Regions from separate parts of the Homo sapiens genome. Here regions 2, 3, 4, 5 and 6 are each linked to region 1. Evidence: fine-mapped expression QTL. A gene starts in region 1. Each other region holds a variant in brackets. All regions are shown on one strand. Distances are from middle to middle. Region 1 holds the start of ADGRD1 (adhesion G protein-coupled receptor D1). Region 2 overlaps ADGRD1 (adhesion G protein-coupled receptor D1). Region 3 overlaps ADGRD1 (adhesion G protein-coupled receptor D1). Region 4 overlaps ADGRD1 (adhesion G protein-coupled receptor D1). Region 5 has its middle 28 kb from the start of LINC02414. Region 6 has its middle 26 kb from the start of ADGRD1.

Region 1 (5,071 bases):
AGCTTCCACACCTTTTTAAAAGGAGCTCCCTATGCATGTGGACGAAACAGAAGTGGCAGCGTCCCCACCCCCGAGTTGGTGAATGGAGGTGGTGGCGAGGCGACGATGCCTGGAACATCCTGGCATGGGGCTGCCGGGCAGCCGGAAAGGAGACAGAGGCTGAGGGCACAGCCCCTGGCCCTAGACCCCAGCAGGCTCCTGGTGCTCCATCCAGGAAAGGGGCTCTCCCTGGAGGCCTGGGTATCGCCCTGGGATCTGCCCACAGTGCTGGCCTGAGTCCATTTGTGGTTGATCATTAAAGGCTGGTTCCCAGCCAGGCCCAGTGGCTCACATCTGTAATCCCAACACTTTGGGAGGCCGAGGTGGTTGGATCACCCGAGGTCAGGAGATCGAGACCAGCCTGGCCAACATGGCAAAACCTTGTGTCTACTAAAAATACAAAAATTAGCCAGGCGTGGTGGCATGGGCCTGTAATCCCAGCTGCTTGGAAGGCTGAGGCACAAGAATCGCTTGAACCCGGGAGGCAGAGGTAGCAGAGAGCCGAGACTGAGATCTCACCACTCAACTCCAGCCTGGGTGACAGAGTGAGACTTTGTCTCAAAAAATAAAAACAAAAATAATTTTTTTAAAAAGGCTGATTTCCCATCAGAGACAGGCAGGGCCATACAATAGCGCTCGGGGGGGTGCCCAGCCAAGCTCTGGTGGGGCGGGGGCAGAGGCTGTGCTCACAACAGGCTTCCCAGCAGGGGTTCAGGCACTAGCAGGGTCTCCTCCCCACCTCCTGCAACTTCCAGCAGGGAGCAACAGCCCAGTGACTGCCTGCTGCTCCCAGAAAGCCTCGTCTTCCCATCCCTGCCCCTGGCTGACCAGAACGTGTGCCCACACTCTTAACAGCGAAGGGTGTGTGCCTCCCTGTCTTCCCGAGAGAAGCCCCGTCCTGATGCTTCCTGGTTGGGTGTCACAATGGCCAATGGAATGTGGCTCTGGGGCTGGAGCAAGGGTGGCCCTCTATCCCGAGTCCCACTCATCGGCTGCTCCAGGCTAAGCTGGTCAGCACTCTGAGGCTGGAGGTCCCGAGACCCTGCTATGGGCCAGAGCTCCAACTCCCCACCAGTGAATCTGCCCTGAAGACATGAGATGGGTGTGGTGGCTCACATCTGTAATCCCAGCACTCTGGGAGGCCAAGGCGGGCGGATCACCTGAAATCAGGAGTTCGAGACCAGCCTGGCCAACATAGTGAAACCCTGTCTCTACTAAAAATACAAAAAAAAAAAAAGCTGGGTGTAGTGGTGCACACCTGTGATCCCAGCTACTCAGGTGGCTGAGGCAGGAGAATTGCTTGAACCCGGGAGGCAGAGGTTGCGGCCACTGCACTCCAGCCTGGGCAACAGAGCAAGACTCCATCTCAAAAAGAAAAAAAGGAAGAAAGGAAGAAAGAGAGAAAGAGAGAAAGAAAGAGGCAGAAGGCATTCAAATGAAGATCATATTTCCTTAATCACAATGTTTCATATGACCCAGCTCAAGGGGCCCAGAACCACTTCTCCATCCACCGCTCAGCCGGTGAGGGGTAGCAGAGCTGCCCAGGGTCACAGTGTGTGGTGAGGCAGTGAGGTCGGGGACCAGGAGCCCAACAAGGGCCATTCGCTGATGCCTCAGAGATGAACAAGTGGGCTGTTCCTGAGATACCTGCACTAGGCAGGGGGAGAGCGGTGCTCAGAGTGAGAAGGAAACACTCTTACCTGGATGGTCCTGCGATCTGGAGTAGACGCCACGCACCTGCGCACAAAAGACCACAGTGTGAGACACACTCAGGGAAAGCCTCCGGAGAAACCAAGCCTGTCGCCATCCTGGCCACTTGGGGACATTACCTGAAAGTTGTAATAAAATAGCAGCAGCCAGGAGTACCAGCAGCACAGCCGCAGCAGCTTTTCCATGGCTCTCTCGGAGGTCAAAGCTCGGAGCCAAGTGAAATTCCTGAGGGTCTGTGAGAACGGGACCTCTTAACCTTCACTTCCTTGGAAAAGGGACATTTTCACAGGTTCCAGGGGAGAAAATTTCTGTCTCCTTAAAGTTTGTGAAACACAGCTGTCTTGGAGACCTAATGGGTGTTTCTTCCTCGTCTCAAAACTTGAGATTCTTCAGTGATCAATAAACACGTTGCGATGACCAGAGCAGCTGTGGAATGCAGGGAGGAGAAACCCAAACCCGACTCGCAGTCCTGGGAAAGCAATCCCAGGTCACCACTGTGACCGCGACCTGCGCCCGGGGACGGGAGGCTGTTTGTCCTGCGGTATTTTCTTTTTATTTCAAGAGCCTCCGTTTGTCTCAGTCAGGTTTGGAGCTTCCCTTTTCTCTGAAGAAGGTTTTGTGCGTGGTTTTCCCCTGGAGCGCCCGCCTGCTCCTCGGGCTTGTCCTGCGGCCGCTCTCGAGCTCCTTCTGGTCTGGCTCAAGTTCACACCTCCGTCCTGCTCTCTGGGTGGAGGGGGAGTGAGTGATGTAAGTCTCTCTCCTCAAACTTTGTTCTGTTCTCCTTTTCTATTTATATCCCCACTGCTGTGTCCTTCCTGGGTCCTAACTCCAGCCTCTTAACAACAGCTGAAATATTTCCAGGATCTCAGGCTCAGAATCAAACCAAACAGACATGGTGTGTGGTGTGTGTGCGTGTGCGTGTGTGTGTTACTGATGCCTTCTGGTCAGCACCTTCAAAGTCGGCATAAATATTAATAAATACAAAATGCAAAACAAACCATAAACTCTGTTTAGATCTGAGTCTTGTTTGCCCCCAAAAGAGAATGAAGTTGACAGAGGGATGGAAAAGAGAAAGCAGCACACCCACTGTGCCCTCCATATTAAGCGCTGACCACATTTTTCTCTCTAATCCTTTCGGACGTCAGTGAAAGCTACGGAATTAATTACAAGGTACGCTGCGCAATTACACCATCCCACATATACCCCCACCCCAGCACCAGGAGGATGTTCTCAATGGGATAGAAAAGAGTCAGCCCCTTCGCCAGACATGCCTCAGTTTACCCAAGACCAAAGTTTATCCGATCTACTCCAAATACACGTGGACACACAGAGACACACACCCTAGAATTGCAGTCACAGCTATATTTGCTATGTGATTTAAGTAATATTTACCGCTTCATACTTTCTCCAACATTCACCAGCTGTGCTCCTAGGCAAATTACTTGATCTCTCTTAGTTTTCGAATTCCTCATCCACAAAATGGGGGTTAATAGTTCCTCCTCCTCAGGGCTGTAACAATAAATTAGAGGACAGATCCAAGGCTCTTCAGGCAGTACTTGGAAAATATGTGGCACTCAGTAAATGCTGCTATTTTCTATTAAGAAAAATTATCACTCAGTAAATGTTAGCTATGATTATTATTAGCAAGTATAACATAACACCCAGTAAATGTTAGCTGATACAGTTATCTCAATTGTCCTGACTTTAAATGGGAATTAAGAATCCTGAATCCAACATACTTCCTAAAGAGGATAAGAAAATGACTTCCAATCTCTGTGGGACAGAAAAAAAGAAAGTGCTGTCAAAACGTTAGGTGATTATTTTTAACTTGTGCCTGCAGCCTACAACCGCTCAGATCCTCTGATAGCCTGAGCCTCTCTGTGGAGCTGGAGAAGGGTTCCAGAGAGTTCCATCTCCTAGCAATGGAGAAACTGTGAACTCCAAAGGCCGGGGGCTGTCTGTAATAACGACCTTTATCCTGTTGCTCAGGCTGGTCGGCTTCAGGGAAAACTAATTTACAACCTTTATCTCTGCCATTTCATCAGCTCTCCAGTCCCCCACTGCCTCTCGCTGGAAGAGGTGAAGGGAGGGACAGGCAGCTGCAGGTTTTTCTCAGCTCCAGTTTTAACCTGGAAGAATTCAACAGATTGCTGAATATGCGGACCTTTCCCATCTCCATGACCGAACAAAGCCAGCATGGTTTCTTTTCATCATAAAATTGTCATCAGATAATGGGAGACACCCCGATTCAATGACTGTAATAAAAACTAGATAGCAAAGCAATTCAGCAGAGCTTGCCCTGCAGGCATCTGCACTCATCCTCAGACTCACTCTGACTCTCCATCCCGGACTACAGTCTCGTGCCTCATGCTATTTGCCTGCGTCCTGTCTCAGGCCTTGTTCAGAGGCCCAGATGAAGAGCCCGCCTCCATGTAAAGCAGCGTGTCCTGAAGCCTGGAGATTTGAGACAGGGCCTTGAGTGGTCCATGGGCCTGGAACCAAGCAACTCTGATGTCTCTGAGCATCTCATTCCATCACCCAAACGTCGGGGTGTTCGGCACCCAAACATCACCTTGACAGCAGGTCTCCCTCCCCCTAAAGCCCTCCCCTGCTGTATTTTCTCGATCCCACTAACCACGATCCAATGTACTTCATATCTTAGACGTTTATTTCATTTATTGTCAGTCTCTCCCCACCGAGGCGTAGGCCCCATGAGAGCAGAGACCTTCTTTCTGCCTGTTCGCTCTGCACCCCAGCCCCGAGAACAGGGCTTGGTACTTGGTGAGCACTCAGCGTTTGTCACCAAACCCAGCCTGGCTCTGCCCTCCCGCAGCAAAGCCAAACATGGACGTCGGGATTGCAGTGAGAGGAAGTGAGGCATTTAGAGCAGGGCACCAGGCGAGCAGAACCTGGCAGCTCACACTTCAGACCTGAACTCCCCGATGGCTGATGGGGGAGGGTTTTTCAAGGTGGAGAGGCAGAGGTTACAGGCTAAGTCCCACATGAATAATACCTGGAGGCTGCACATTGGTTTGACCTAAAAAGCTAGGACATCTTGAACTGGGGGCCCACAGGTCATATAGGTAGTAGATTCAGAGGTTTTCTGATTTGTGATTGGTTAAGAAGGCAAGGCTTTGTCAAAAAATTTGAGATCAGCAAAAAAGAATGTTAGCTCTGGCCTGTGGGCATGACCTCCTCCAGGCCCCTCAGGAAGAAATTTAGAACAAAGAACAGTGGTGGGCCCGGAGGGGTGGATCCCAACACTTTGGGAGGCTGAGGCAGGTGGATCACCTGAGGTCAGGGGTTCGAGACCAGCCTGGCC
Region 2 (5,071 bases), 78 kb before region 1:
GGACAGGCGTGCAAAGGCCCTGGGGTGGGAATGCACTTGATGTGGCGCAGAGCAAGGCAGACGCATGGCGGGAGCGGAGTGGAATGGGCGGGGAGTGGCCCAGAGTGCGGCAGGGTGGGCAGGGGAAGAAGGGCGTGTAGATCTTACTTGAAATGCAGAGGAAGCCCCGAGAGGGTTCGAGCACAGGGTGACACCACCTGACGGCCACGTCGAATATTACTCTGGCTGCTGTGTGCAGCTGGGGGCGGCTGGGAGGCTGGCGCTGGCCTCCGGGGTAGACAGTGAAACCAGGGGCAAGGCTGGTGATGGTGACGATGGGTACCGGTGGAAATCGGACGTGAGCTGCAGGTGGAGCCGGCATCCCCCGGGGAGGACTGGCAGAGGGTGGAGCTCTGTCCTGCCAGGAGTGCCGTGAAAATGCACAGACGCTCACACCTAGATCCTGCAGATACCACGTGTCCCCAGCCTTCACCCACGCGGCTCAGGGAAGCTGCTTCCCCCTAGCAGACGCAGCAGCCGTGGAAATGACCACAGAGGACACACGGCTGTGCAGCCCTGGTTGGGCACCTGCTCCAGGGACCTGGCAACCACCACATCCCGTGCCCCTGCAAGCCCCTGTGGCCACCCAGGCCCACGGCCTGCCCCTCCAGGGCCGGCTCCAGTCCACTCCACCGGGACCCAGGCCTGTCAGCCAAGGCAAGAGGGACACACACTCCCGTCTTCACTGAGAACCTGCCTGGCTGCCTCCGTCACTGCACACCTGCGCAACCCAGCCCAGCAGAGGACAAGAATTCCCTGCGTTCAGGGGGCTCCGAAAAGACATAAGGAACCCAACCCTGCATGCCACGCTCTGAGCGGGAAGGAAGGCCGCATGTGGACGCCTGTCCTGCTCACTGTGCCTCCAGGGCTCTGACGGTGCTGAGCACAGATGTGGTGCTTGGGCAGTGCTTGTGGGGTGCATGATGGAAGGGCACCCTGGCCCCAGCAATGACCAGCTCTAGAAACCCCTCCGGCCTGGAAGTCCTTCCTTCCCACCCCACCCCAGCCCCTGCCACACAAAAACAAGACAATCCCATCTGGACACAGCTACAGGGGACCCACCCAACGGCCCTGCCCGCACAAAAAAAGAGCTCGGGCAGGGCCAGCCTGGTCTGCACACGGAGGGTGGGCATGCAGGAGACCCAGGGCACTGCCTGGCACGAGCCATGAATGTCCTGGAGGGCAGGGCGGGGCTCGTCGCGCGCCATTTAGCTCGGGAGGAGAGGAAGCTGCAAATGAAGTGGTCTCTGTGACGGGGTGGCGATTTCTCTAATAAGCGTCACCTCTGTGACGGGGTGGCGATTTCTCTAATAAGCGTCACCTCTGTGACGGGGTGGCGATTTCTCTAATAAGCGTCACCTCTGTGACGGGGTGGCGATTTCTCTAATAAGCGTCACCTCTGTGACGGGGTGGCGATTTCTCTAATAAGCGTCACCTCTGTGACGGGGTGGCGATTTCTCTAATAAGCGTCACCTCTGTGACGGGGTGGCGATTTCTCTAATAAGCGTCACCTCTGTGACGGGGTGGCGATTTCTCTAATAAACGTCATCTCTGTGATGGGGTGGCGATTTCTCTAATAAATGTCATCTCTGTGACGGGGTGGTGATTTCTCTAATAAGCATAATCGTCACTGCCCCACCATAGGGAGAGGAAGCAGAGGGGCCCTGGAGGAAGCACAGTGAGCAACCACGTGGAGCTGCAGAGCCCTCTCCGCTCACTGCTGTCCTAAGAGGGCAGCCGAGAGTTCGTGTGCAGGTGCTGGCACCCGGGCCTGCAGCAAGAACACTCGGGGAAAAGGCCACACAGCGGTGGGGGACGTGTCAGCGGAGGCATCGCATGTACTTCCAGGGTACCAAAGTGAGTTGTGAAACCTCCTACTACGCTGAATTTTCAAAGCAGGCGTCAGAACCCGTGAGATGATTCGTGCTCGTGGAGGATCTAGGCGGGGTCGCGAGTGGCACAATAAGCTGTGGACCTGTGAGACTGTCTTTGAATAGAGCTGTTTTGTGAGCTCTGCCTCCACCGCCAGGGTGGAGAGGGAACGTCTGCCGCCTACTGAATGCCTGTGTAGCCTAGGAGAGGGCTTCAGTAGAGCCTGGGGGAGCCCTGTGTGCCCCTTGCGGGGGACAGGGTTGGAGCTGGTGCCTGACACTTGGAGAAGGACATTTGGGCTGTGTCTCAGGGCTAAGGGCTGCATTTTGGAAAGCAATGTCACCCCCTCTATCTGTGGGGCACAGCGGCAGGAACCCCAGAGCCAAGGGTGGAGGCTGCGATAGGAGAGAAGTCAGGCTGGTTCATCTGAAGGCCTCCCTTCCGGGGCAGCAGTTCACCAAACAGACACAAATGGCTCCCCAGCTTCCCACAGGGAAGGCAGGTAGGCACCTGGCATGTGCGGGGACGAGGCAATGACACCTCTCAGGGTTTCCGAGTGTTGGCAGAAGTGACCCGGATGTTTGGTATGCAGAGCTGGCCCCTGGGGAGAAGCCAAGTCACTTCCTGAGGTTTTGGGGAGACAAGGTGTTGACACCCAGGCCCAACCCTGGGGGCACAAGAATCAAAGACACAGAGATCCATGGAGGTGGCCCTGGGGGTCCAGTACAATGGGATGGTGGAGAGGGGCCCCAGAACTCCTGCAGCCTCAAGGGGAGGGGCAGGTGGGTGACCTGGTTTAAGACCAGGCCTGAAGGAAGGGTGGGGGGGCCGTGTTTGCTAATCCTGGAACCTTGGGAAAACCACCGACAAACGCAAATCTGAGAAGCTGTGAGCAATGGGTGACTCGTCGACAGAACCGCATGGGTGAGGGACTGCATTTATGTCTCAAGCTGTGTAAATGGTCATCCCAGCAACAGGTCAGAACTCACCCCATTCCAGTCATGCCCCACAGTCTCCCCGAATTCTCCTGCACCTGGGCTCAGACCTGCAAGAGGCTAAGCCAGGCCTAAAGGGATGAAGGCCACCGTCCAGTGTTTGAGCCGCACCAGGGCAGCACGCAGTACCCAAGGCTGCCCCAGACGTGAGTGGGCTCCGCTGTCAGAGCCCCCAACAAATGACATGGCGCAGGAAGGGAGGGTGGGAGGCAGGGAGCAGCTTCGACAGGAC[C/G]CCCCAAGGCAGCAGAGCTTCCGGCAGTGGAGCTCAGAGTTGAGACCGCCCAGCCCCTGGCTCCCCGGGGCCCAGTGTGGTGAGTTGGGATGAGGTGTTGCCCTTCCTGCGTTCCGGGCTCCCATGTGGCCTGTTCAGAAACCCTGGTGAAAAGAGCGGCCCTCGGTGGGGGCCCTGGCTGTGGGCGAGTGCTCCTCTGGAAGGAGACTCCGACACACTGCACATTGTGACAGAGGTGGCTGTAACCAAGGCGACCCCAGAACAACAGGCTGCAGATGCGGCTCAGTGTCTCTCCTACACAATAGCTGACCTGTGCTCTGCACACCCCGGCGTATTCAAAGCGATGAGCCCTCAGCCGCGGGTTAAAGTACTGGTGTCTTCTGTTCTTTACAGTCTCAGTGTGCCACATTGAGGTGTCACGCGCCACACTCCATGGCATCCACGCTACAGATGCCAAAGGCCACGGGAAAGCGAGTTCGCCATTCTGCTGAGGTGGGCAGGCTACTATTCCCCGGGACGTGGCTGACACCCCTCACCTGCCCCGATGTGCAGCTGAAGAGACCCCTCGTCCGGCCTTGGCCTCAGGGGAGGGACGATGTCCAGCAAGCTTCTGTCTGACCCTGTGTCTGCCACATCAACTGGAGCAGAGACAACTGGATACAGAAAATCCCATTCACCAAGGTGGGTGCCCTCAGGAGGAAGGGCCTGCGCACGCTGCAACGTTGGGGATGCATTCTGAGATCTAGCTGCATTCTCGGAGATAGAGCCACTGCCCCAACAATTTCAGCGGCACAGTCTGGAAGGGCTCCCCACAGATTCTTAATTTACCCTCTGCAGCTGACAAAACACAATCCCCACCCTCCACCAGAGGGGTCCACAACCTAACCCCAGAGCCTGGGAATGTCACCTACGACGGGTCCACAACCTAACCCCAGAGCCTGGGAATGTCACCTACGACGGGTCCACAACCTAACCCCAGAGCCTGGGAATGTCACCATACGACGGGTCCACAACCTAACCCCAGAGCCTGGGAATGTCACCGTATGAAGGGTCCACAACCTAACCCCAGAGCCTGGGAATGTCACCTACGACGGGTCCACAACCTAACCCCAGAGCCTGGAAATGTCACCATAAGAGGGGTCCACATCCTAACCCCAGAGCCTGGGAATGTTACCATAAGAGGGGTCCACAACCTAACCCCAGAGCCTGGGAATGTCACTGAACGAGGGGTCCACAACCTAACCCCAGAGCCTGGGAATGTCACCGAACGAGGGGTCCACAACCTAATCCCAGAGCCTGGGAATGTCACCGAACGAGGGGTCCGCAACCTAATCCCAGAGCCTGGGAATGTCACCGTTAAGAGGGGTCCACAACCTAACCCCAGAGCCTGGGAATGTCACCGAACAAGGGGTCCACAACCTAACCCCAGAGCCTGGGAATGTCACCGAACGAGGGGTCCACAACCTAATCCCAGAGCCTGGGAATGTCACCATACGAGGGGTCCATAACCTAACCCCAGAGCCTGGGAATGTCACCTACGACGGGTCCACAACCTAACCCCAGAGCCTGGGAATGTCACCACATGAGGGGTCCACAACCTAACCCCAGAGCCTGGGAATGTCACCGAACGAGGGGTCCACAACCTAATCCCAGAGCCTGGGAATGTCACCGTACGAGAGTCCCACAACCTAACCCCAGAGCCTGGGAATGTCACTTTACATGGCAAAAGGGACCTTTCTGATGTGGGTAAATTAAACGTCTGGAGGTGGGAGGTGATCCTGGATTAGCCACATGTATCCAGTGTGATCCCAAGGATCTTGACAGAGGGAGGCAGGAGCAGAGGAGGGGGAGGCACAGAGGCTGGGGTCAGGGGAACGGATTCGCACTGCAGGTTCAAGTGTTCATCCGCACTGACTATAATAGTCAATATAAA
Region 3 (5,071 bases), 140 kb before region 1:
CTGAGAAAGGCCCTGACCCAGGCCCTTCCCTCTCCCTTGGAGCACCCACCTCCGAGTCCTGCTGGCTTCTCACCACTGGCCATCTGTCCCAATCCTCTTTCTGATGGATTTCTAGAGCCTCTGCCTTGATCTCTTCAGCCTCCTGGGCTTCCCTGGTCTCCCCACAGCACCAGCCCCATCCTCTACCATGTCCCTCCTGGCTTGGGTTCCGCTGTACACTGGAGCCTCGTCCCTCATGGCTCACCCCCTCCATAGCGCCTGAGTCTCAGACTCAAACCCCCATTCCCCCACCATGGCTTCTGAGGCCCCGCATGCTCCAGCCCCAGCCCGTGCCTCTGACCTGCCTCCATCCACCCTCTCCCTTCATCATGGGAAAGCAAGACCCTCCCCGCTCGGGATTGGACTTGGGGAGCTGGTTATGAAGGTGAGGGAAGCCCTGAAAAAGCAGAGAAGGCAGTGAGGCAGCCCAGACAGCAGCCACTGCGGGAGAAGGAAGTGAGGCCCAGACAGCGGCCACCGCGGGAGGACAGTGGGAGAGGGGACAGCAGCAGAGCCAGGCCGGGCCACCAGCAGAAACTGGAACCAGACCAGCCTGCCCAGGTGAGGCTGGCGCGGGGGTGCAGGGGAGGGTCTGCATGCAGGCGCTGGAGCCACAGGGGGACGCCCATGCCAGCAGGAGCCCAGGCAGGAGGCTGGCCCCTTCGCCCACCCCAGCAGCACCATCTCTCCTTGGTTGGACTTGGCAGGAAGCCAAGCGTAGGGCAGAGAGCAGGGTGAGCAGAGGATGGGCTCCCGGGCACAAGAGCAGGAACTCCGGGCTAGGTCCACACTCCACCCCCACACCAGCCCTTGAACCAACCATCTGCTCCCCAACCTTTGACGCCCACCCTGTCCCGGCCAGGCTGGCTCCTGCCTGTCTCTGGTCTCTCCGCGGCTGGCATCCAGGCTCTCACGGGGCCTGTCTCCCCTCAGGGCAGCCCTCAGCCCCTGGCTGGGCTGCACTCCTGCCCTTGGCTCCTGGACAGCACGAGTGACCAGGCCCTGGCGGATCTGTGACTCCAGGCATCCCTGGTTTGGCGGCCATCCCTGGCCGTAGGCAGCCGTAGCATGTGCCAGCAGCATGCAGCCAGCCTCCCCCGGGCTGGGTCCAGTTGCTGGCACATTTCACGTCCACTGATGGAAATGAACCGACAGCCCGGGGACAGGTAGAAATGAGCTGCTTGGCCACTTGAGGGGTGCTGCAGGACGGGAGAGGACTGGCCACAGGCAGGAGATCTTCCCCGAGGACCCAGCTGGGCTGCTGTGTGTTTGAACAGATGCTGGGACTGGCCTGCCTCGGGTCACAGTGACCTTGTTGAAAGTGTCAGCTGGGGGGACCATCACCCTCTTGTTTTCCAGACCAGGAACCCTGGGGGCTCCTGCTGTCTCCCCTGGCCGCACAGCTTGTGCATCAGTCTGGGGCCATCTGGGAAAACAGAAACCACTCCAGCCTTTCAAAGAGTGGAACATTTGACTCAGGGAATTGCTAACCCTCGGGAGGGGAGAGAAAGGGGGACCTCATAGGGGTAGTGAGGTGGCCCAGGAATGAGCCTCGCCACAAATCCCCCCGTGGAAGCCAGATCCATAGACTGTCCAGCAGGGCTGCAGCCACAGCAGAGGCGTGGCCACTGCCCAAAAAGCCACGTGTAGGGGCGAGAGAAGAGCTGCTGGGCCTCCTCCCCTCCCATCACCTGCCCCAAGTGACAGACCTGCAACTCAGCACAGTGGTCGGCCGTGGGAGGCAGAGCCGGGCAGCAGGAGGCAGGTGGATCTCAGAGCAGAACCCAGGACTCAACATGACTGGGAACTCAGGGCTGAGTCCCCACTGTGCCCCAGACGATGGCTGCTTTAAACAGTTGTGGCGATGTAAACCTGGACTGGCAGTGCCCCACGGGAACCCATCCTCACAGATGGAGGCGGGATATAAAACTGGACCGGCAGTGCCCCACGGGAACCCATCCTCACAGATGGAGGCGGGATGTAAACCTGGACCAGCAGTGCCCCACGGGAACCCATCCTCACAGATGGAGGCGGGATGTGTGCATAGGATGCTGGTTATTTGCTGCGGCCAAAGACCACCATGACTTCAGTGTCCACCCGCGGGAGAGCTATGCAGTGGTTAACACGGGAGATGTGGCTCTGTGTACCCTGAGAAGGAGCAACCTCCAAGATACGTGCATACATTTTTTAAAGTGTGCTATCTTGCCAGGCATGGTGGTGCACACCTCTAGTCTCAGCTGCTTGGGAGGCTGAGGTAGGAGGATCTCTGGAGCCCAGGAGGTCAAGGCTGCAGTGAGCCAAGGTGGCGCCACTGACTCCAGCCTGGACCACAGCGTGCAACCTTGTCTCTAACACAAATAAATTGTAAATAAAAATAAAGGGTGCAGTCTTTATGCTTCACTACCCTTTGTTTAAAGGAAGGTTTGCATCCATTGAGGTACAGAAAATTTTAAAAACAAACAAAAAAAGAACAAAGAGCAAAGCGGGGCCCCAGGCTCAGCAACTGCGTCTGGAATGACAGAAAAGCAAGCGCGTGTCTAGGCCGCTGCTCTGGGCAGGGCCGGGAGGCAGGAATGGTGGCCGTGACCCTAAGCCGCTGCTCTGGGCAGGGCTGGGAGGCGGGAACGGTGGCCGTGACCGTCAGTTTCCACACTCTGCCTTCTGTGTTCTTGCATTTTCCCACATGC[G/A]TGTATCATCTTTACAAACAATTCAACCTACAGAACCCCTCTGTCTCCTGACACCCCAGCTTCCTGTATGTCCCAAAAAGAACCCTCGAGCTCCTGTCCCACTCCTAACACGGGGGCTGGCGGCTTCTCAAAGACGGCCCACATCCCCACTCTAATTCCCAAGATTCAACACACTCATGACAAAAAATACGTGTTGACCAGAAACCTGGCCTGCTTCAGACGTCAAGCCCTGACCACAGCCTTGCAGCCCACAGCTGCCCCGCAAAGCGACCCGATCCCTCGGCCGGGCTATGCGTCCATCTGCCCTGGGAACGTCCAGTCTGGCCCCTGACCATGTTCCCAGTCCTGGTCACCCGGCCCACCCTCAGCCCCACAGAGTAAGACCCCAATTCTGAGGGTAGCCCCGAAAGAAGATCCCCCAAGACAGGACCACCCCAGAGGCTGCTGCAGCTCCCTCTGCAGAGCGGCTCCAGCCCAGCACACTCCAGAGCAGACACTTCTTCAGGAGAATTAGGGAATAAATGAAGCAACATATGCTTCTCCTCTAAAAGGAGCAGCCTGGGTCTGGTTGGAGGAGGCAACGGCAATTGAATTTGTCAAGAGGGGCAGGGGTGGAACCCTCAGAACCTTGAAGCTACGTCTCCCTGCCCCCAGGACTGCAAGGTGCCCAGGCAGGGCTGGGGCTGAGCTGACAGCAAAGCTGAGTCCCGGCAGCAACTGGCTGCTGCTCCACCTCGAAGTGCAGGTTTTTACCTCTTAGGCCCATTTCCCAATGTCCCAGGTGGCCAGCAGCCTGAGAGTCGGGGGGACTGAAGGGAGAGATGGGGGTGGCAGGTGTCAGCCCTGTTCCCAGGGCTCACTCAGCTCTCCACTCAGAGAGGCACAGGCCACAGGGTACAGGGGAGGGCCCTGGGGGCTGAGAGGGGGCGTCTCGAGGGAGACTGGAGGGGCATGGGAAGGGGTGGGTAGGGCAGGAGACGGGAGGGGGTGGAAGGACGCATGCCCCTGCGCCTCCCCCGGGTGAGCTCCCAGCTCCCATCCCCAGCCCAGCTCTCAGCAGCCCAGGACAGGGCTCAGGAAAACTCATCTGTAAGGCGGGGCGGGAACAGCGTGCACCCGTGCACCTGGAGGGCTTGCTGGTGGAATGGTAAGGAGCCCATGCAGAAGGACCCAGCAGGCTTTGCCCACCACCCTCTCCTTCTGGAAGAACTGCACAGGCTGGGAAATCAGAAGGGATGGTGACAATTTTCTGGGTCTCTAAGAGGATGGTACTGAGGATGCATGCCCTCCCCACTCAGCCAGAAGACACTGGTGAACCACAGTATTGCTTGGGGAGTCGGGGGGGCGCTGCTGAACAAACCAACTTCCTTGTTACTCCTGGGCAAGGCAGGACCCTCTTCTGCCTCCAGGATTAGAGGGGTCCAGGGATGGGTGGAGGGGCCTCTCCTTGGAGCCCCTCCAGCCTCCACAGTTACCCCCACCCCCATCAACAGGGCAATAGACCGTCCTGCCCCGGTGCCCACAGCCACAGGACTGAACCTTCCTTATGAAGAGTGAATGGAAGGAGACTTGTGGCCATGAACGGGTCAATGCTGGGATGGCTGCAGTCCCAGGTGCAGTAGCCAGGCCTGCTCCACCCCACCCCACTCCCACTCCACTCTCAGGGGTCCTCAGGGCCAGGACATCCCTAGGGACCTCATACTCATGGCTCACTGTGACTTCACTCTGTCAGGCAGTGTTTGGGGCTGGGTGCTGAGGCTGGGTACTGAGGCTGTGTACTGAGACTGGGTGCTCAGGGCTGGGTACCGAGGCTGGGTGCTCAGGGCTGGGTGCTGAGACTGGGTGCTCAGGGCTGGGTGCCGAGGCTGGGTGCTGAGGCTGGGGACTGAGGCTGGGTGCTGACGCTGGGTGCTGAGGCTGGGTGCTCAGGGCTGGGTGCTGAGGCTGGGTGCTCAGGGCTGGGTGCTGAGGCTGGGTGCTGCTGAGGCTGGGTGCTTGGGCCTGAGCTGTGCTTACTTCTGCCTCCTCATCACCACCACAGCTCCACAAGGAAAGGGTCCCACCCATGTCACAGCGGGGAAACTGAGGCTCAGAGCAGGCACCTGCCCAAGGCCACCTGGCACATCACTGGGAGGGACCTGTGTGTCCAGCTGGCTGGGAGGCAGAGGGGCCACTACTAACCCCAGCTGCATGCAGGAGGTGTTATTGGGAGGTGGTCTGGCTAACATTCACACAGAGACCCCGTGGAGGGAGCCTGTTTCTGACTTGAGCTGTACATGCTGCGGCTGCCGGCACTGCAGTTGGCACAGTCCCGCCTGTGACACACCCTCGGGACCGCAAATACA
Region 4 (5,071 bases), 27 kb before region 1:
TCTTAGATCACCCAGAATGACATCAGGGCTTCTTGCTCAAGATTGTGCAACTTTCTGATAATTTTGAGTCTCTGGAGCACGCTTGGACCCTAGGTTGGTCCAAAGTATTATTGCCCCTGAGTTTGAAAGTAAGAATAACAAACGCCTTCAATGCACAAAAGAGAGCACATTGCCAGCCAGAAGTGTTTCTAATTCTCGCCCTTTCCCTGGGTGGAAAAGCAGCCAGAGTTGAGCATACTTTACCTTTGTTCAAGGTCAAAGAACCTAATGGATGCCTGAAACCACGTTCCACCAGCCCCAAGGAGCAGAGAGATAAGCTGCTTACAATCGGACTCTGATAGCAAGTGGAACAGGAAGGTCACGGAAAAGGTTCAGATGGTTCTGTGTCAGGGGAGGGAGGCAGAGATTATTTCTGACCTTAGGGATCACAGAGGGCAAATTTGAAGTAGATGTTTGCTGAACTGCCCCACTTTACAGAGGTGGAGGTACAAGCTGGTCCGAGCACACCGAGCATCCACAGAAGAAGGCAAACACCTTCTGGGCCCACTGTGCCATCATTCCACGCTTTATGCCTAGCAGCCCACTTAGTTCTCACAGTCACCCTATGATGTGATACTGCTATTACTGCCATATTATGAATGAGGAAACTGAGGCATAGGGCAGTTAGGGAAGGTGCCCAGGTTCACACAACTACCAACGTCCAGAGGCGGGATTTGATCCAGCCTGTTTGGGTCCAGAGTTCACGCTTTTTAATAACTGGGCCATGCAGCCTCCCTTAAGAATGAGCCAGAAAATGGATTTCCCTTAAATACATCAAAGATGTTTCCTACCGGAGGAGATCATCCTAGGCTTTTGTGCTGCCCCCTCCACCTCTGCCCTTCCCTTGTTGGGCTCCAGTCCTGACTTGGCCCCCACTCCATGCCACCCTGAGTCCTTCTGTGTCCCCAGCCACCTGTTCCCCTTCTCCAGCTTCCACTTCAGACCTTCGTCAGCCTCTGCAGCCTACTGCCCCACGTCCATGTCTCAACACCCACCTGCAAACTCAGCCAATGTGCAGGGACTCCTGTTCTCTTCCCACACATCCAGGGCCCCTCCCTCCTCCAAGACCACGCACAGTCCAGTGCTTCATGCGCTCTCCCCTAGCCCCTTCCTCTGCTCCCCGATTCTTCAGCCTCTCTCTCCAAAAGCTTCTTCTCGTCATGCTTTAAACAATTTCAAGTCTATACCACTAAGAAGAAGGAAGAAGAGGAGGGGGAGGAAGAGAAAGAGGAAGAGACAAAGACTGTGAGAGAAAAAGGAGGCAGATGAGGAGGAAGAGGGAAAATGAGAAGGAAAAGAAGGAGAAATGTAACCACTGCTTGCACTTTGCACACCATATCTTCAGCTTAATGTCCTGGAAACCGTGAGGTAAGTACTGTCAATATCATCTGCACATCACAGGTGTGATCACTGAGGTCAGTGTGGTCAGGTAACCTACAGCAGGCACACAGTGCACGGGCAGACGGAGCCCAGGCTCTGCACCAACCAAAGGCGGCTTACCAAGGGCACCTCCTTGCCTCTCCCCATGCACCTCCCCAACAACCCTTAAAGGAAAGGAGCTCGGGTGCCAGGAGGCAGCAGCATCCCTGGGCTCCTTGGGCTGCGTTGGGCTTCTCAGCGTCCATTCTCAGAGAAGACTCCACTCCTCCAGGCAGAGCCTCCCGGGACCGATGCTGTCACTCACCTGGGGGGCTGAAGGAGGCCTCCCATGTCATGGAATTGTCCCGCGTATACAGCTCCACAGAGCCTCTGCCACCGCTGGAGCAGACTTTGAACCCATTGGAGATGACCTGTCCCCCATACGCAGAAGGGATTGGTCTAGACTGTTCTCCTTGTGTCTTCCAGAAAAAAGAAAACGTGACCCCTGAGGAAAGTCACAAGATCAGTTATTCACAGAGAGCAGGGGACTTGACTTCTCGCAAGCACATGGTTCTCTTTGCTTTTTATTTTTCATTCGAAAAGCATTTTGTCCCCATTCTAAAGGCAGTGTATGTTCAGTTCAGAAAATCCAGACAGTGATATTTGCTCATGTTTATTAAGGGCTCACACAGTGCCAGGCACTTTTCTAGGAGTTTGAAATGAATTCTCGCCTTTTAAAAAGTACAAAAATCCTGCTTCATCCCCACTATACAGATGAAGGAACTGAGGCTCATTCACTCAAGGTCACCAGTGACTGATGAAGATCGCTGCAGCCCCAGGCAGTTCCCCGCCCCCACTCCCCGGGATCATGCAAATGTGAAGACCTACACCCTCCAGGTTTCTCTCCTATTCCTCCAGAAATGTGGTTAGGGCGGCTCCTTCCTAAGCCTCTTCTATAAATAGATTTTACAAAGACA[C/G]GAACCATCTCAGGCACACTGGTTTATAAACAACATTTCTATAAAGTTTACTCCACCGTGAACTTCCTCCGATGTCCATAAATACACTGTCACGTTGTCACTTTTATGTCTGCACAGCGGCGCATTCTAAACAAGCACCACAGTCTTTTTTTTAAACAGCAATCCCCTGTTGCTGGATCTTAAGGTTTTCTTCCACTTTTTGAAGAAATTTTCAAACAGAACTTGAAGCAAATTCTTTTGCATATCTCAGACTATATGCCTTTAGGATACATTCCCAAGAGGGCATTTCTTGCCAAAGGGAAGCACACTTTTAAGGTTGTTGATATCTTCAATTGTTCATTTCCCGCAGTTGGATACAGAGGGGGCAGCAGCTGAAACCTTTTTCAAGACTCTAGTCTGCACATTCGTGGTAAGTCCTGACCCCAGGCCCACGCTGCGGGGGAGGAGGGATTGCACCTGGACTAAATGGTCTGAGCGACGCATGTTAGCATGAATGAGCTGGCTCATTAGTTCATGTTGCCTCCGCCACCAGCAGCAGATAGGACATACCTCAAATGTGTTGTGGCAGTATATTACAGTAAATTATGACAATTAGATATTGTACCTTTGTGGGTGCAAAGTCCTACTGTGATCAATGTAAACATGGAAAAACAATGTAATTTTTATGATCCTCATGTGGGATTTCTCCATGTTTTTACTATAAGAGGAACTGCAGGCCGGGCGCGGTGGCTCACGCCTGTAATCCCAGCACTTTGGGAGGCCGAGGCAAGTGGATCACCTGAGGTCAGGAGTTTGAGACCAGCCTGGCCAGCATAGTGAAATGCCGTCTCTACTAAAAATATAAAAATTGGCCGGGTGTGGTGGCATGCACCTGTAGTCCCAGCTACTCAGGAGGCTGAGGCAGGAGAATTGTTTGAACCACGGAGGCAGAGGTTGCAGTGAGCCGAGACCACGCCATTGCACTCCAGCCTGGGCAACAGAGCAAGACTCTGTCTCAAAAAAAAGAGGGTCCAGGCATGGTGGCTCACGCCTGTAATCCCAGCACTTAGGGAGGCCGAGGCGGGTGGATCATGAGGTCAGGAGATCGAGACCATCTTTACTAACATGGTGAAACCCCGTCTCTACTAAAAATACAAAAAATTAGCCAGGCGTGGTGGCAGGTGCCTGTCGTCCCAGCTGCTCAGGAGGCTGAGGCAGGAGAATGGCGTGAACCCGGGAGGCAGAGCTTGCAGTGAGCCGAGATTGTGCCACTGCACTCCAGCCTGGGCGACAGAGCGAGACTCCGTCTCAAAAAAAAAAAAAGAGGAACCGCAAAAGCCCAGCTCCTGAGCATGCCCCGCACCCACCCCGACCGCTGTTCTGCACTCACACCCACTGGTCTGGGGGCCGGGCTCTCTGCTGAAGGGGAAGTCAGGGCAGGGCCTGGCTGGAGGCTCTGTGGAGCTTGGGCCTCTCTGGCGTTGCATTTTGGAGCTCTGGTTGTCTCTATTCCACTTCTCTGCCTCCAGTAGCATCTGCCCACCTGGCCCTTCTTTGTGTGTAAACTCCAGTGTGTGTGTGTGTGTGTGTGTGTGTGTGTGTGTGTGTGTGTGTGAGACACTAGCTGCCTGTCTGGATTCTGCCCCTGACAGCTGGAAATACATCCAGCTGCCTCACCCCCGCCAAGCCTGGCCCAGGCACATGGGTAAGAGGGTTCAGTGGTGCTGAGAGAGAACACGTGCCCAGAACTGGTCCAAAGAGGCCCATGATGGGACGGTGGGTGCAGGGGAGAGGCAGAAGGATATTTGCCCTGGGCTTTATTTCTATAAATGGTGCCAAATTTAGACTTTAGACCTTACCTTCACATGAGGTTATGGACACAGTCTTAGAGAGTCACTGAATTCAAAGAAGACATTTGTCATTCGTGTATAAGGCAGTGTCTCATTGCCCACCATGCTTTCTGTGATGCCTTATGAATTAACATATCTGTTAGAAGTCCTTCAAATGTCTTGTGACAATATATCAAGACAACTATACCTTTGTGAGTTCAAAGCCCTCGCAGGATTCAGGAAAAACACAGCATACATTTTATAACCCTGGTATGGAATTTCCCCATTTTATTTTTTAAGAGAAGAAGAACCTCAAAAAAATTGGAAGAGGCCTGGACCTTTCTGGACCTCTGAGAGGCTACGGGGTACAACTCCAAGCCCTGCGGCATCTGTCCTTAGGGCTCCTGGGAAAGAAAACAGCCTTCCCGAGTGCCCAGTAATGTGGGTTACCGCAAAAGGGTGCGACTGTGGGGGTTGCACAGAGGCCTGGGGCAGCTGACGCTGGTGTCCCCAGACCTGGCTGGCACCACCCACACCCACCTCATGAACGGGCTTCCTGCAACACCTGCCTTGGGCGCTGAGGGGTACAGAAGCCAGGACAACCCCCCGAGCCTCCCGCCACTTCCCTGCCTTGGGCGCTGAGGGGTACAGAAGCCAGGACAAACCCCCAAGCCTCCCGCCACTTCCCTGCACACTCAGAAACAACCCGTTTCACAAGGAAGTCAGCACAGTGCGTTGTGAAATTTTTGTTATGAAACAAATTCCCAGTAGGATTCATGGAAGTTAATTTTTTCCAAAAACTTTGCTGCATTTTAAAATTTCTTTCACTCAATTCAAAATGAGCCTGTCTTGGCCAAATGTCTTTCTGTTCAGGAAGAAAAATAAAAA
Region 5 (5,071 bases), 670 kb before region 1:
CAGTGAACCCCGGGTGAGGAGAGGCATGGACTCCCCTGCATATCAATGGGGAGCCACAGAAGCTTGTAGAGGAAGGTCATTCTGCCCCGGGTCCCCCAGGGAGCTGGGGCCTCAGCTGTCTACCCTAACAGCTGGGCCTTCTGGCCCCTCCTACCCTGAGAAGTGTGGCCTCTGTTTTTGGTGAGGTCACAGCTGCAGGGAGGGCCAGGGGGCCGGATGCCTCAGACTGCAAACAGCTTCGCCCAATACCCCCTGTTGCGGGGCAGAGGCTGGAGCTAGAAATAGCCCCGCAGTGACCCCCACCCCAGCCACACAGGGCAGGCCTCCTGACCACAGGTCCTGGGCCACCCCTTCCTGCTCACGTGGGAGGGAACCCTGGGCTGGGGGAGGCTGTTCCCCAAACAAGGCCACCTTGTGTAGCTCTCTGAGGGCCTTTTATAATCTCCTTCCCTCCCCCAGGACAGCCCAGCTGCAGCCCCTCCTCACCAGCGACCCCTGGGCCCTTTGCCTCGGGGCCAGGCAAGCGGAGAGCAGAGAGCAGTGTGTGAGGAGGGAAAAAAGCCGGACTACAGGGACCCCAGCCACCCGCCAGCCCCTACCCTGCAGCCTCTCCTGCCAGAGGCCGAGGCTCCTGAGCTGCCCCGTGCAGGGAGTGTGGCCAGGCGAGGCTCCGTGGAGTGCAGGAGCTGCGGCAGCAGGAGAGCCAGGAGGAGGCTGTGGCTCTTGCCCAGGCAAGCAGACATGCCAGCTGTACGCAGTCCTGGGCCACGTATCGTGTGTGGTCTTAGGAAATGTGAGTGTACACTTGGTGCGTGCCTGTGTGTGCCCATGTGCATGTGTGTGTACACAGCCTCAGCCCACATATCATGTGTGTGAATTCAGGAAACGTGTGCGTGTGAGTGCATGTGTGTACATGCGCGTAGGTGTGCATGTGCCTGTGTGTGTTCTCATGTACACAGCAGAGCTGTGGGTCTCAGCCCCCGCTGCAGGCTGGAACCCCCTGGGGGTGTGGTGGATCTGGAACTTGGGAAGCAGCCCGGCAGCGTCGCCCAGAGCTGAAGATCCACTTACCCCGACCCAGCAGTTCCACTCCGGGGTGTCTGCACCACAGACAGGGGCATGTGTGTTCACCAGAAAGTGCTCTTAGCGGCACCGTTCGTGAGCGCCAGCCTGGAAATTGCTGCAATGCGCGTTAATCGTGCAGTGGGCACGTGAGCGGGAATGGCCATGCTGGGCCTCCCTGTCCAGGGGAGCCCTGACCCCCTCTCCCCTGCCCCGGGGAGAGGCTGAGGAGCAGTTTCCAGGCCTGGGAGGGATCTGGCCATCCTGGGAGTGACTGGGGAGGATGGAGAGTGCTGGCTCAGCCCACAGTGACTGCACAGCTCTCCCCGCCGCCTCCTCCTCCAGGAACAACAAGGGCCCTTGTGTCCGCCTCCCCCAGGGACAGTGCCCCAGTGAGGAACAGAGCCTGGCCTGGGAGGTGGCCCCAGGGCAGGCCTGGGTCCCAGCGGTTAAGTCTGGCCTCAGCCCTGGGGCTCTGGGCGGGGCTGCAGTGAGGGGATGGCGCTCTCGGTGCACCAGACTGGAACTTCTGCCCCCTCCCCGGATAGCCAGCTCTGCCACCCGCTGAAAAGGGTCCCTGGGCTGTGGACAGGCACCGTATCATGCTCTGCTATGTGGTCCTGAGGGGGACAACAGATGTCCCTAGGGTCCGTCCAGGACTCACCTGCCTGTCTCTGTATTTCTCTGCCAGGTCACCCCTACTTGGTGCACGTGATTCACAGGTGGGAAGCCACGCCTCCCAATCAGCATATTTCATACTGTGGTCCTGGGATTGGCTCAGGCATGGCCATGTGACCCAAGCTGGTCCAATGAGAATGTGCCCGGGACTTTTTCTGAAACCCCTGGGGAAGGGAGGCTTTGCCTCGCAGTTGCTCAGTTAAGAGGAGCTCTCTGAGGGCCATTTCCAGGCCGCCTTCCCCCATCAGGGACACAGGCAAAGTGCAAGAGCCCTGAGGATTTCCAGGGCTACAAAAATGTTTTAATTTCTTTTAAAATTAGAAGAAAATATGAGCTCTTAGGTCAAAGAAATATTAACCTATTCATCTTTGTACCAGTTGTAAAATAGAAGCTTAAAGGTGATTTTATGGAGGAAGGAGCCCACGAATGCAAAAGGGCCCAGGGCCCATGGAAGCCGCGTGCAGCCCTGTCTCTGCCGCCGCACAGGAGGGGGCCTGAGATGAGGATGGTGAGCTGACGGCCAGGGCCGGGTGAGGGTGACGCCCGGGC[G/A]GTGCCAGCCATCCACAAAGTCCTGCTGTGTGTGTACTGGCGTGGGCAACCTCATCAGAGCCCCACGGCACCTCACCATGATCGTTTCACAGACGGGGAGAGCGGGACCCAGAAAGGTTAAGCAATGCCACCAAAGCCACACTGCTTGAAAGTGGGAGAGCTGGGTCTTGAACATTGAGTTTGGCTGCGGAGTCTGAGCTGGGGAACCGCTGAGCTGCTTTCTGTCTGAGGGCAGGGTTGAGCCTGGGCCTGTCCTGATGCTGCCAGCCCCTTCTTAGGGTGCTCAGGTGAGGGCGTTGGTGAAGCCCCCTTTCTGTCACTTGCCTCCAAGACAGCCCAGATGACACACATGTGGAGCAGGGGCAGAGGAGAGCTGGGCAGTGGCTGCACCAGCCAGGAAGCAGATCCTGCTCCGCCGGGATATCAGACTATGTGGGCTCTGCAGCATTCACGATCCTACACTCCCACTCTGGGGTCTGGTGAGTCCTCCCCCTGCAGCAGGAGAGCAGGCTTTCCCAGAAGGTGAGCCCCACTGCTGTCCAGATGTGTGATGGCAGCTTCCTGTGAGGAACCAGACATTGTCCAATTGTGGGGGGTCTGGCTTCTTGGAGGTTTGCAGAGTGTGGCAGGTGTGGAAAAACTTGAGGCCAAGGAAAGTCCTTTCGAACAGGATTAAGCAGGTGGCATGTTGGTTGTGGTGATTCCAGTACTGTGTGCGTGTGTGTGTGTGTGTGTGTCTGTGTGCATGCACGTGTCTGCACATATGCATTCATGTATGTATGTCTGGGTCTGCGTGCGTGGGTCTCTGTGTGTGCATGCATATGTGTATATGCATTGTGTGCCCATGTGTGTGCACATCTGTGTGCACCTGTTGAGCCAGTTCTGTGAGTCCCCCTGAGGGCCAGGAGGCCGTGGGCAGGGCTGGTCCTGGAGAGCACTTTGTTTTCTTCTCCACACACTTTGGGTTCCCCCGCTGAGTGCACCCCCTGCATTTGGCTGGCTGCTTTCACCCCAGCCCCGCTCCTCCTGTGCCCAAGAACCTCCTCCTCGTCTCCTCCTCTGTCACGCAGCTGGTGCAGCACACCAGGCCTGCACTGAAATGCATCGGGGAGCAAAAGGGAGGTGAAGTCAAACATCCCATCTGCTCCTGTCCACGTCTTCAGGGTCACTGCCAAGTTCTGACACTGCCGACTCCCCACATTGAGGGCAAACAGCCCCCCCGAATGCAAATCTCACTCCTTGTTTGCAGTCACTGAGAAATTCTTTCTGGAAGATGTTTATTGTTTCTCCTTCGCTCTGCAAAATCATCAGTGTAGAGAGGATGTCTTAGGAGTTTCCAGAATAAGGAAACGAAGGAGCAGCGACTCATGTGGGTCCTCTTGGGATGGCTGAATGGAATGCAGAGAGGGGAGGAGAGTGGAAAATAGAGCATGCATTTTGAGAAAATTTCGAGCAGTTTCTCAGAAGCCTTGAGCCTTGGAGGAGGCAGAAAGGGAAATTATTTTCAGCTTTGTGTATGCTGTTTTCCGAGGATAGCACTTGTCTATCAGAGGCTGACTTCCTGAAGACTTTATCTATCAGATTAGAAGCCTGTATGAGAGCCTAGGTAAAAATGCAAATTCCTAGGTCCCAGCCCAGACCCTGGGATCAGAATATGGAGTGTGAGAGACCCAGGTTCTTGCGTCTCTGCAGCCTCCCACGTGATTCAGATGGTCGCTAAAGTGGGAAGACCAGGCTCCTGAAAGAGCGGATGGCATCTGCGCAGTTGAAGCATCGTTTGTCCATTCACTCATTCAGCAAATGTCACTGAGTCTCTTGAGGTGCCAGCGCTGTCTCTGGTGCTGAACCAGGGCCCCGCGCTCACGGCATTCACCTTCCAGTGGAGGAGACAGCTTGTATCTGAGGGAGTCCCCCAGCAGTCAGAAGGGACACGACGGGTTAACTGAAGAGGGCTTAATAAAGGGCAGGGGTCGGGACCGAGGCTGTTTATGCCAAGATGGCAAAACCCAAGAGGTCTGTGGGTGGCGACGTCTGAGACTCTAGCGGCCGCCTGGAGCTTCCGAGGCTCACCAAGAGCAAACCTGAATTGCTTTCCAGGCCACATGTCCATGAACAGCACGTGCAGAAGCAACACCCGGAGGCCTCTCCACTCCCCAGGGGCTGGTGTGGGAGGCGGCCGTGGCACCAGGAGCTGCTGCATCCTGCAAGTGCACTGCCCGGTTATTAGTCATGGATGGCATCCAGAATTTCTCCAGCATACTTGGGCCCACCAAATAGTCACAGCAGCACAAACGGCCCAGCAAATCAGAGGCCCTGAGGGACAGGACCCAGAGCTGGGAGGGTGCACAGGACAAGCCTGGCTCCCTGCGTGCCTGGAGGGTGGCTCCCTCGCCCTGGCCACTGTAACTCCGACTGCCTGTCCTGGAACACGTGCCTGCCATGGTGTGAGGGTACACAGGGTAGCCTGAGCCCTACCTGAACTTCAGAGACCAGGGGCACGGGGGGATCCCTGGGCTGATATCAGAAACAAGGGCATCGGTGCTGGCGAGAAAGTAAGGGGAGGCCCCGGCCCCCTGCAAAGGATCCCGTGAGCCCCCAGGTAGCTGCTCCCAGGACATGGCACTTGGACCCCCTCATCCTCACAGTCTCGGACCCGACTCCTCCACGTAGCCAACACCATAGGATGTCAACAGTGTCTTTAAAGCTATGAGGCTCCCAAACAAACTCTCCTCTTCCCGCCCCAGTCGCCTCCATTCCCAGGACATACTCGGAGCTCTCAGGC
Region 6 (5,071 bases), 26 kb after region 1:
CTCCAGCCTGGGCAACAAGAGTGAGATTCCGTCTCAAAAAAAAAAAAGAAAGAAAGAAAGAGAGAGAGAAGGCTGAACCATTGATTATAACCAGCAGAGCCAGTTGGCAGCTACTGTGCAGCCAGCCACACGTCTCATTGAGACCTGCAGGAACAGCCAGTAAATGAGTGGGAATGGATGACCCTTGCACACGACCCTGCTCCAAAATCAGAACTGTGTCTGCAGCCCACCTTGTTTCCCTCTGGCAGAAAAATAACCTTGAGCTGTGCAGCTGCTGAGCTGAACATCCAGAGGACTGAGCACACCCAGACCTGTAAGTGCCACAGAGGAAGCATGGAATGAGGAAGCTTTAGCTCATCCTGGAAGATGAGAACGCACACCTGAAACCATGACCTTTTTGAGATTTTTAATAACGAGCATACTTTTAGACTGCTCTTAGGCTCTGTGTCTCTGAATTTATAGAGAGAGAGACTCCTCAGTCAGGCAGGCTGTCCAGTGGGGCCAAGTCTTAATAAAGGTTAAATCACCATCCCCTTCCTTCACCATCTTCATCTCATGATCAGAGACAATGTCATCCTCATCCTCAAAGTGATCACTGGTGGGGCAGCCCCCTGTGCCAACCCTGCCCCGAGTGCCAACCTGCAGGCATCTGCTGATTCCTTAGGACAACCCTAGGAAGTTTATGCTATTTTATTTTTACTTTTTGGAGACCAGGTCTTGCTCTGTCACCCCCGCTGGAGTGTAGTGGTGTGACCACAGTTCAGAGCGGCTTTGATCTCCTGAGCTCCAGTCATACTCCTGCCTCAGCCTCCCAAGTAGCTGGGACTACAAGCATGTGCAACCATGCCCAGGGAATTTTTTAAAATTCTTTTGTAGAGTGAGCCACTATTTTTAAAACCTTCTTTTAAAGATGAGGAAACAGAAGTTCTGAGAGGTAAAGTAGGTTCCCCAAGGCCAGTTTGTGAGTGGAGGATTAAAGGTTCCAATGCAGGGAGCCTCACTCCAGCACCTGCGTTCTTAACCACTCCACCACGTCCTTTCCGTATGTCTAAACATTCTGAAAGAAAAATATTTTATAACAAAGAAGTGCACAGTAGAGTTTCTCATTACCTTGATATTATATTCTGTGGTCCGTGAAGACATTATCATCACCAGACACGTGACCTGTGGTCACCTCTAACTCAATTCTCTCACACTCGCATCCCAGACAGACACAGAGGCTCACAATCACGTGCACCACAAAGAGGATTATTTTTACGTTTTTATGATGAGTTCATGTGCAGCTATTCAAAGGCTTTGGAAACCTTCCCATCTCATAGCATCTTCAAGAGAATGTTTCTTTCTTTAACCCATGGAAAAAAAAAAAAAAACCTTCCTAGTCCGACCTTGCTCAAGTCTTTTTGACAATAGTCCCTGTTCCTCGGTCGCAGTAACAAAGAATAAAAATGGGTGGCCAAGACACCCAGCCGTGTCCTCGTGAAGAGAGAAACAGCACCACTCACACTCCACTCTGCCTGATACAGTCAGAAGCATCTTGGGAGAATTTCCAATTTGACAGTCGTGTGGAATGAGAAAATAAATGTGCAGGGAACAGGTTTGTAAGAATTTACATCCAGCTTGTGCAACATGGCAAAACCCCGTCTCTACTAAAAATATAAAAATTAGCCAGGCATGGTTGCATGCACCTGTAGTCCCAGCTACTTGGGAGGCTGAGGCAGGAGGATCGCTTGAGCCCAGGAGAGGGAGGTTGCAGTGAGCCGAGATCGCACCACTGCACTCCAGCCTGGGCGATAAAGCAAGACCCTGTTTAAAAAAAAAAAAAAATTCCAGGACTCATTGTTTTTTCTATTTGAGGGGAAGGAAGGATGACGTCGGGGCAATTAGATGTAAACTTTTGGCAGGAACTCAAGAATGACAAGTACAAGAAAACTCAGGAAGGAGTGAAA[C/T]TTCTCCATATGCCACTCCCCACAAACTAGAGTTAAAACCATGGCAAAAATGTGTTGCCAAATAAGTGATGCTATTGCTGCATAAATACGAAGCATTGCTGGGTTTGTTGTTTTCTGTGTGTGTGTGTTTTGCTGTGTTACCTAAGCCAAATATGAACTAATACACAAGGACACACAGTAACCATGAATGCAGTCAGACAAGTAATGATTTACGCTGTGTACAGATTGTGACGTTTTTGGTTCTTTGCAGGGTCGGAATAAATAGAGAACAGAGGCAGAGCATCCAAGAAGGAAAAACAGAAGCTCCTGGCAGATGCTGAAACCGGAAAGAGGCATGAGAAGACAGCAATGGGATCTGACACTACGGCCCTGTCTGTCAGGGCTATGTCAGTTACCAACCCATCTGATAGAAGCAGAAGGAAAACAAACTGGTCCGTGGAAGGAAAGGCCAGTGGTGATGCTGGCTGCAGGCACAGCTGGATCCAGGTGACATCCTGGGGTTCAGCTTTGCCCTTCTATTCAGACCCTTTCCTTGCTGCGGATGTTTACAAATAGTGCCAAGCCTGGAGTCACTCTCTGACTTGTCTTAATTATGTCATTAGACCAGCTTTTCTTTTCTTTTCTCTTTTTTTCTTTTCTTTTTTGAAACAGGGTCTCCTGTCACCAAGGCTGGAGTGCAATGGTACAATCACAGCTCACTGCAGCCTCAACCTTCTGGGTTCAAAGAATCCTTCCACCTTAGCCTCCCCAGTAGCCAGGACCACAGGCGTGCACTACCACACCCAGCTAATTCTTTTATTTTTTGTAGAGACAGGGGTCTCACTATCTTTCCCAGGCTGGTCTCGAACTCCTGACCTCAAGTGATCTACCCGCCTCTGCCTTCCAAAGTGCTGGGATTACAGGCATGAGCCACCACGCCTGGCCTATTATTACTTTTTTGAGACAGGATCTTGCTGTTTCGCCCAGGCTGGAGTGCAGTGGTGTGATCATGGCTCGCTGTAGCCTCGACCTCCTGTCTCTACAAATTTTTTAATTTGTAGAGACAGGGTCTGGCTATGTTGTTCACAGGGCTGGTCTCAAACTCCTGGACTCAAGTGATCCTCCCACCTCAGCCTCCCAAAATGCTGGGATTACAGGTTTGAGCCACTGTGCCAGGCCTCATTAGACCAGTTTTCTGACAAACGTGATAGAGAAATCATAATCATTTTCTTGTTGGTTAGTAAGGAATAGAATAGAAAATAGCAACTCATTAATTCAAGCAAGTGAATATGTAGAAGAGGGGGTCCACATAGGGGAGAAGGCGGCCATTTTTCCAAGAAGGAACTCTGACTTGCTGCAGATATTTAGGGGAAAATTCCTAAAATAATGGGGATTTTAGGAAGCTTGGAGAAATTCAAGATGACCTATTGCCAGGTAAAGGAAGCAAGTTGTCAAAATGTATGAATTTGAGGCTCTAGAATTCTCCAAAAGCTTTAGAGTGGCCTAAATAACCTGATTAATATTTTTCAATCCTGGGTGGCAGTATATAGAATACACGCCACTAACATGGGAAGAGTTCCAAGACATGCCACATGAAAACAAAAACAAAACAAAAGAAACAAGTTACAGAACTATTAAGATCATGCGATATTATTTACGTACAGCATATACATAAATGACATCTGGGTACATATTATGCAAAGGCATAGGGAAAGTTCTGGAAGGATAGGATGCAAACCAAAAGAGAATATACTTCTGGAGAATGGAGAGAAGGGCCAGAAGTCACAGGTCTTTACTGCCCAGGGGTGTACCTGGGACTATTCTACAGTCCCAGCTGCTTAGGAGGCTGAGGTGGGAGGATCACTTGAGCCCAGGAGTTCAGGGCTGTAGTGAACTGAGATTGAGCTACTGCACTCCAGCCTTGGTGACAGAGTAAGACATTGTCTTAAAAAAAAATTAAGGCCAGGTGCAGTGGCTCATGCTTGTAATCCCAGCATTTTGGGAGGCCAAGGCGGGAGGGTCACTTGAGGCGAGCAATTTGAGACCAGCCTGGGCAACAAAGTGAGACCTCATCGCTAATAAAAATAGAAAAATTAGCTGGGTGTGGTGGTAATTAGCTGAGTAGCTGTAATCACAGCTACTCAGGAGGCTGAGGCAGGAGGATCGCTTGAGCCTGGGAGGTTGAAGATACAGTGAGCCAAGATCGTGCCACTGGCACTGCAGCCTGTGTGACAGAGAAAGACCCTGTCTCAAATAAATTAATAAAGTTTAAAAAAAGAGCTCTCTAGCCTTGTTGCGACATTTTACATCTTCACAAGAAGAATGTATCCAGCCAATGACTTAAATAATAAAAATTCTTTTTTTTTTTTAGATGGAGTTTCACTCTTGTTGCCCAGGCTGGAGTGCAGTGGTGCGATCTCGGCTCACTGCAACCTCTGCCTCCCGGGTGCAAGCGATTCTCCTGCCTCAGCCTCCCGAGTAGCTGGGACTACAGGCGTGCACCACTATGCCCAGCTAATTTTTGTATTTTTAGTAGAGACGGGGTTTTACCATGTTGTCCAGGATGATCTCTATCTCTTGACCTTGTGATCTGCCTGCCTCGGCCTCCCAAAGTGCTGGGATTACAGGTGTGGGCCATTGTGCCCGGCCAAAAATTCTGTTTTATAAAAGTTTCAAGCACATCTTAAGGCTTCTCATTTTAAGCAACCAGCCTGTGGCACTCTTCTTTATTATACATTCAATTCTTCATCCATCTTTTGTTTTTCCAAATCTGTGTAATTCACCCTTAACAACATCTCAGCATTTTGCAGAGCGAGAAGCCCGGCGGGAAAGCACGCTCCTCCCAAACCACATCAACCAAACATATCCCTTACTTTCACGCAGAACTGTAAAACAAAGAGTATTCTTTACTAAGTTAGAGACTTTAAAATAGCAGATGAAAGAACGCCGTGTTCTTCAAGATTCCGACCTCTCTCCTCCTCTATCTTTAGCATGAAGTTCCTAGGATGCTGTGAATCACTGCTTGTTTGGGACCAGCGTCAGCTGACCTGTCGAAACAGCTGCCTTCTGTAGTAAGAAACCGGCCTATGTTTGGAAAACCACAAGTCTCTTATTTTTCATTGCCTGGTTGGCACTTGTTGCAATTA

The links.
Region 2: its variant is fine-mapped to the expression of ADGRD1 in cerebellum (GTEx, PIP 0.97). The same link has a PIP of 0.9 or more in hippocampus.
Region 3: its variant is fine-mapped to the expression of ADGRD1 in blood mononuclear cells (TOPMed, PIP above 0.99). The same link has a PIP of 0.9 or more in whole blood.
Region 4: its variant is fine-mapped to the expression of ADGRD1 in whole blood (TOPMed, PIP above 0.99). The same link has a PIP of 0.9 or more in blood mononuclear cells, microglia and spinal cord.
Region 5: its variant is fine-mapped to the expression of ADGRD1 in whole blood (TOPMed, PIP above 0.99).
Region 6: its variant is fine-mapped to the expression of ADGRD1 in fibroblasts (GTEx, PIP above 0.99).

What each region holds. Positions count from the first base shown.
Region 1 is chr12:130,951,329-130,956,399 of GRCh38, reverse strand. ADGRD1 (adhesion G protein-coupled receptor D1) reads right to left here and starts at 2,493. Exons shown (of 25, transcript NM_198827.5): 1 at 1,869-2,493; 2 at 1,740-1,776. The coding sequence starts at 1,934.
Region 2 is chr12:131,029,236-131,034,306 of GRCh38, reverse strand. All of the region lies in intron 13 of ADGRD1 (adhesion G protein-coupled receptor D1), which reads right to left. Among named protein-coding and RNA genes, the nearest start is that of ADGRD1-AS1, 38 kb to the right of the region's middle. The variant C/G (reference allele first, on the strand shown) is at 3,139.
Region 3 is chr12:131,093,583-131,098,653 of GRCh38, reverse strand. All of the region lies in intron 15 of ADGRD1 (adhesion G protein-coupled receptor D1), which reads right to left. Among named protein-coding and RNA genes, the nearest start is that of LINC01257, 69 kb to the left of the region's middle. The variant G/A (reference allele first, on the strand shown) is at 2,727.
Region 4 is chr12:130,978,716-130,983,786 of GRCh38, reverse strand. ADGRD1 (adhesion G protein-coupled receptor D1) reads right to left here. Exons shown (of 25, transcript NM_198827.5): 5 at 1,724-1,903. Among named protein-coding and RNA genes, the nearest start is that of ADGRD1-AS1, 13 kb to the left of the region's middle. RefSeq lists an enhancer at 3,251-4,241. The variant C/G (reference allele first, on the strand shown) is at 2,376.
Region 5 is chr12:131,617,511-131,622,581 of GRCh38, reverse strand. No RefSeq gene overlaps it. Among named protein-coding and RNA genes, the nearest start is that of LINC02414, 28 kb to the left of the region's middle. RefSeq lists enhancers at 3,996-4,496, 4,497-4,997. The variant G/A (reference allele first, on the strand shown) is at 2,290.
Region 6 is chr12:130,925,707-130,930,777 of GRCh38, reverse strand. No RefSeq gene overlaps it. Among named protein-coding and RNA genes, the nearest start is that of ADGRD1, 26 kb to the left of the region's middle. The variant C/T (reference allele first, on the strand shown) is at 1,947.